Regions from separate parts of the Homo sapiens genome. Here region 2 is linked to region 1. A link means that fine-mapping ties the variant in region 1 to the plasma level of a protein whose gene starts in the linked region. Region 1 holds a variant in brackets. A gene starts in the other region. All regions are shown on their forward strands.

Evidence for each region. PIP is the posterior inclusion probability: the model's chance that the variant is causal. The UK Biobank Pharma Proteomics Project read protein levels with antibody pairs (Olink). The fine-mapping took linkage between variants from a reference panel, not from the people measured, so its PIPs are less certain.
Region 2: IL15 starts here. The variant in region 1 is fine-mapped to the plasma level of the IL15 protein (UK Biobank, PIP 0.99).

Annotation. Positions count from the first base shown.
Region 1 is chr3:128,660,755-128,663,666 of GRCh38, forward strand. No RefSeq gene overlaps it. Among named protein-coding and RNA genes, the nearest start is that of RPN1, 11 kb to the left of the region's middle. The variant G/A (reference allele first, on the strand shown) is at 1,184.
Region 2 is chr4:141,634,943-141,637,854 of GRCh38, forward strand. IL15 (interleukin 15) reads left to right here and starts at 1,641. Exons shown (of 8, transcript NM_000585.5): 1 at 1,641-1,806. RefSeq lists an enhancer at 1,554-1,643.

The DNA of each region.
Region 1 (2,912 bases):
TTATTTATTTTTTTTTTTTTTGAGACAGAGTCTCACTCTGTTGCCCAGGCTGGAGTGCAGTGGCACAAGCTTGGCTCACTGCAACCTCCAACTCCTGGGTTCAAGCAATTCTCCTGTCTCAGCCTCCCAAGTAGCTGGGATTACAGACATGCACCACCACGCCTGGCTAATTTTTTGTATTTTTAGTAGAGATGGAGTTTCACCATGTTGGTCAAGCTGGTCTCGAACTCCTAACCTCAGGTGATCCACATGCCTCAGCCTCCCAAAGTGCTGGGATTACAGACATGAGCCACCACGCTCGGCCTTTTTATTTATTTTGTGACTGCAATCTGTCATGTTGGTATCTTATTGCTACAGAGTCTGCTCTCTCCGTCTCAAGGTCTCTGTTTTAATGTTAATGCTGGTCAGTTGTGCCTGAATTTCAACGAGAGGAAGGTATAATGTGGCCTGTCCCACCACCCATTCCCATGATGGTCTGAAATAATGTTTCAGGTTTATTTTGGAATGCCCTTGGCCAAGAGGAGGAATCCATTCAGGTGGTTGGGGGGCTTAGAATTTTATTTTTGGTTTACATCCATTAATGCCATAAGAATACTGGCAGAAATGGTAAAAATCAATGTTTTCAGAACTTTAACAAAAAGACTATAACACGCTAGGCATTGGCTCATGCCTGTAATCCCAGCACTTTGGGAGGCCAAGGCAGGTAGATCACCTGAGGTCAGGAATTGAAGACCAGACTGGGCAACATGGTAAAACCCCATTTCTACTACAAATACAAAAAATTAGCTGGGCATGGTGGCACATGCCTGTAATTCCAGCTACTCGGGAGACTGAGGCAGGAGAATCACTTGAACCTGGGAGGCAGAGATTGCAGTGAGCTGAGATTGTACCACTACACTCTAGCCTGGGCAACAGAGTGAGACTCCATCACAAAAAACAAAACAAAACAAAAAAAACAGACATAAGTAGAATACCAAATTCCAGCATGAAAGCATGAGGAGCTCCATGACCTATTCTCCAGTAAGACTTGTGAAAACTATAAAGACCCAACTACTTAAAACCTCTAGAAACGAGCTGGTCACAGTGGCTCATACCTATAATCCCACCACTTTGGAAGGCTCAGGTGGAAGAATTGCTTGAGCCGAGGAATTTGAGACCAGCCAGGACAATATGGGGAGACCCC[G/A]TCTCTACAGATAAATTAAAAAATAACTGGGCATGGTAGCATGCACCTATGGTCCCAGCTACTCAAGAGGCTGAGGCAGGAGGATTGCCTGAGCCTAGGAGGTCAAGGCTGCAGATCCTGTCTCAAAAACAAACAAACAAACAAACAAAAACTCTAGAAATTGTCATAAGGGCAACAGGAAAATGCAGAAACACTTATTCAATAAAATCTATGAATATTCTGTAGGAAAAGCAAGCATCTCAGGTATCTGAACCAAGACTGCCACCACTCTCCTCCCTATCAGATCAGCAAGGCAGAGAATCTGCTGCAGATTGCTGCTGCCAGACAGGGCTCCCTCTCCCTGCAGCTCTTAGTCAGAAGGCTTTATCTGGCCAGGTGCAGTGGCTCACACCTGTAATCCCAGCACTTTGGGAGGCCGAGGCGGGTGGATCATGAGGTCAAGAGTTTGAGACCAGCCTGGCCAATATGGTGTGCTGAGACCAGCTCGGTGGGGGAGACCCTAATCCAGCAGCGCTAGAGGAATTAAAGACACACACACAGAAATATAGAGGTGTGAAGTGGGAAATCAGGGGTCTCACAGCCTTCAGAGCTGAGAGGCCCGAACAGAGATTTACCCACGTATTTATTAACAGCAAGCCAGTCATTAGCATTGTTTCTATAGATATTAAATTAACTAAAAGTATCCCTTATGGAAAACAAAGAGATGGGCCGAATTAAAGGAATAGGTTGGGCTAGTTAACTGCAGCAGGAGCATGTCCTTAAGGCACAGATTGCTCATGCTATTGTTTGTGGTTTAGGAATGCCTTTAAGCGGTTTTCTGCCCTGGGCGGGCCAGGTGTTCCTTGCCCTCATTCCCGTAAACCCACAACCTTCCAGTGCAGGCGTTAGGGCCATTATGAACATGTCACAGTGCTGCAGAGATTTTGTTTATGGCCAGTTTTGGGGCCAGTTTATGGCCAGATTTTGGGGGGCTTGTTCCCAACAATGGTGAAACCCCGTCTCTACTAAAAATATGAAAATTAGCCGGGCCTGGTTGCGCACTCCTGTAGTCCCAGCTACCCAGGAGGCTGAGGCAGAAGAATAGCTTGAACCCGGGAGGCGGAGGGTGCAGTCAGATGAGATCCTGCCACTGCACTCCAGCCTGGGCGACAGAGTGAGACTCCGTCTCAAAATAAAAAATAAAAATAAAAAAGAAGGCTTTATCTTTGGGATGAGGAAAAGGTCAGCGTTTCTCATCCTGCCTCCAGCTACCTGTTGTTTAATCTAAGATAGTAGGCAAGTACAGCTGAGAGTAGCAGTTTCTCTTCCGCTATTCAGTCCCAACTTGCAGGACAAAGGTGCTACCTTAGGCATGGTGCACTGAGGAGACTGGAGCCCTGGTCACCCTCGTCCCAGTACTTTGCATTTCAAGAGAGGCCAGTGGAGAGGAATTTGGCTTCTCCCACACTTCCCCACCCACTGAGTGCTTAGGTCCTAGCGTCCAGGTGTCACTCAGCAAGAACTTGCCATTGTCTTTACCCTGTTCTCTGAGATTTTGCCAGGGGAGAGAAGCAGGCAGTAAAACAGGTAGCTTCTAATCTCCTCCCATTTGCAAGATCATGGGTGCTCTCAATGAAAAGCAATTAAACAATGAAGGTTAAAGTGAAAGGCAGAACTGGAGAACCGCTAGTTTATAAGAGGGAATGGTGAATAAGACAGGTGAGAAGAGGCCTCCTAGGATTAGGACAAA
Region 2 (2,912 bases), not on the chromosome of region 1:
AAGAGAGACAGGATCTGAGATGTGATGATATGTCCTCTGGCAGCAGCAATATCTGATATTGAGCTCTGCTAGGTGGTGCTGAGCGTGGACACCTGCTTCCTTCACCGGCTGCAGAGAACACAGTATCCATTAAAGGAGCTGAAAGAGGTGCTAGAGGAGTTTACATGGCAGGAGTCCAGGAAGCTCTGCAACAGTCCAAAATGAGGTTGGGACACATGATACACTTGTTCATCCCTATTCTCTATCTTCACACATATGCATATCAGTCCTTCCGTGGCTGCTATATTCTTGTGGTGAGATCCAAACCAGCTGCAGTCTTGCTCTCCCAGTGCATGCTCATTCTGCAAATCAGAGCTTCAATGTATTGCTATGAAAAATTCTGACTGGTCTTGAAATCCATTGACACCATCACAAGAAAATTCAACATGACATCGTCATGAACAGAAATGGATGATGGCTTCATATTCTTAAATATAATTTCCAACTATGGTGAAATTTTGAATGGTTGTAAAAACTGTTTTTGCATTTTTATACCTCACTTATTTTGTTAATGGAGACTATCTAGAGTTTGATGTAATTCTCATCAAAAAGTCCATCAGTAATTATTTCAAATATAAAACTGATATCAAAAAATTGAGTTAATGAAAATAAACTCAAATTTTTCATAAAAATATGAAATTATATTATACGGAACTTTATGTACATGGAAAGTGAATAATTTCTATTATTTTTCTATTTGATATTTATCATATTTATGTAATTAAAAACATAATTAAATTTTAAACTAAATTAAACTGCGCTCCAGGAAGACATCATTTTCTCTGAACCATGACTCTGAAAATTTGGAAAGCACCGTACAAGAGGGATTTTCAGTGATTCACAAGAGTGCAAGATTCTGCAAAGTACTTTCAAAACTAAGCGTGAGATCTTTGCTACTGCCTTTATGGCATGCAAATCACTCAGCCTCAACTCAGTTCCTTCCTCCAATGTAAAAATACTACAAGAACAACATCTCACGCTTCCATCAAATGGGACCATGTGTGATATTTTACACTGGACTACACAATAGGCTGGAAAAGTGATCCGCAGAGAGGCTCATTGCTCTAAGTTCACTCCCTGTACCAACTGTCTTGCACAAAGCTGCCACCCGGGTGTCTTCTTCCAACATTTCCCCTAGTTGGACTTCAAAGTTTCCTTCTTGCAGCCTGTGCGGGGACCAAGAGGCCGGTCTAGAGTAGCCGCCCAGCATCCAGATCCGACATCCTTTTCCCTTTCCTCAGGAAGACTTGGATGCGCGCCAGCCCAGCCCGGGTCTCCAGGTTCAGCTGCGGAAGCTTCCCACATGGTGCCCGTCGCTTGGGATGCGGCTATCCTTGTGCCTTCTCTGCAGGTGTCCCGGCAGGTAGAGGAGGAGACCGGTGGCTGGTGTTCCTGCAGGGCGGGGCTGGGGCTCCTCGATGTCCTTGCGCTTGCCCTGCAAGTTCTGCGCCCCAGGCCCCGGCAGGGACGGAAACAGGCCGGGAAGCAGTGACACCTGGGGCAGTCAGTCATCCAGGAGCCGCCGCCACCCGCCCCACCCCCAGTCTCCGCGGGAGGTGTTTGTCTTCGCCTATGCTCCCGGCTCTTTCTCTTTCACTTTTCTTTTCGCCAGGGGTTGGGACTCCGGGTGGCAGGCGCCCGGGGGAATCCCAGCTGACTCGCTCACTGCCTTCGAAGTCCGGCGCCCCCCGGGAGGGAACTGGGTGGCCGCACCCTCCCGGCTGCGGTGGCTGTCGCCCCCCACCCTGCAGCCAGGACTCGATGGAGGTACAGAGCTCGGCTTCTTTGCCTTGGGAGGGGAGTGGTGGTGGTTGAAAGGGCGATGGAATTTTCCCCGAAAGCCTACGCCCAGGGCCCCTCCCAGCTCCAGCGTTACCCTCCGGTCTATCCTACTGGCCGAGCTGCCCCGCCTTCTCATGGGGAAAACTTAGCCGCAACTTCAATTTTTGGTTTTTCCTTTAATGACACTTCTGAGGCTCTCCTAGCCATCCTCCCGCTTCCGGAGGAGCGCAGATCGCAGGTCCCTTTGCCCCTGGCGTGCGACTCCCTACTGCGCTGCGCTCTTACGGCGTTCCAGGCTGCTGGCTAGCGCAAGGCGGGCCGGGCACCCCGCGCTCCGCTGGGAGGGTGAGGGACGCGCGTCTGGCGGCCCCAGCCAAGCTGCGGGTTTCTGAGAAGACGCTGTCCCGCAGCCCTGAGGGCTGAGTTCTGCACCCAGTCAAGCTCAGGAAGGCCAAGAAAAGGTACCGCAGCTCCCCACTTCCTAACTGCTCCCGTCCCAAACTCATTGTGGGCCGGTGCAGATGTCTGTGCGTGCGCGTCTATCCCTACCTTTGCAAAATCAAATTATCGCCCTCTTCTTTGCTTGCACACGTCTTCTGGGAGAGAAATTTGCAGGAATGGTCAGTGCTTGGCAGTCAGGCCTGGGTCTGTATTGGTTCCAACTCTGCGCCAGCCAGTTATCTCTTAGAGAAGCGATAGTGTATCTAGAATGTCGAAGGAACTTGGAAAAAATACGAGCGAATTTCACTGAAATAAAATCATTATTCAAGGTGGCTTTTAAATGAAAATCCAGCCAATTTTTTCAAGTGTTATTAAGACCGCATGTAGCAAGGGTATATAGTTCATTTGACTTTATGTAATTCCATGCATTAAAAACTATGTTGACTTCAAAGTATGTCTAAACCAAACTAATTCTTAAATGATGCTTACAACAGATTCTTAAATAGGATGAGTCAGCAATTTCAAAACTGGAAGTAAAGTGGTGGTCACCAGCTAGTTTCCATTATATATTTTTAAACTACTATCTAATATTATGATACTGGTGGTGGCCAACTAAGTGGACGTCATCCTTATCTTGTCAGTGTGGTGAA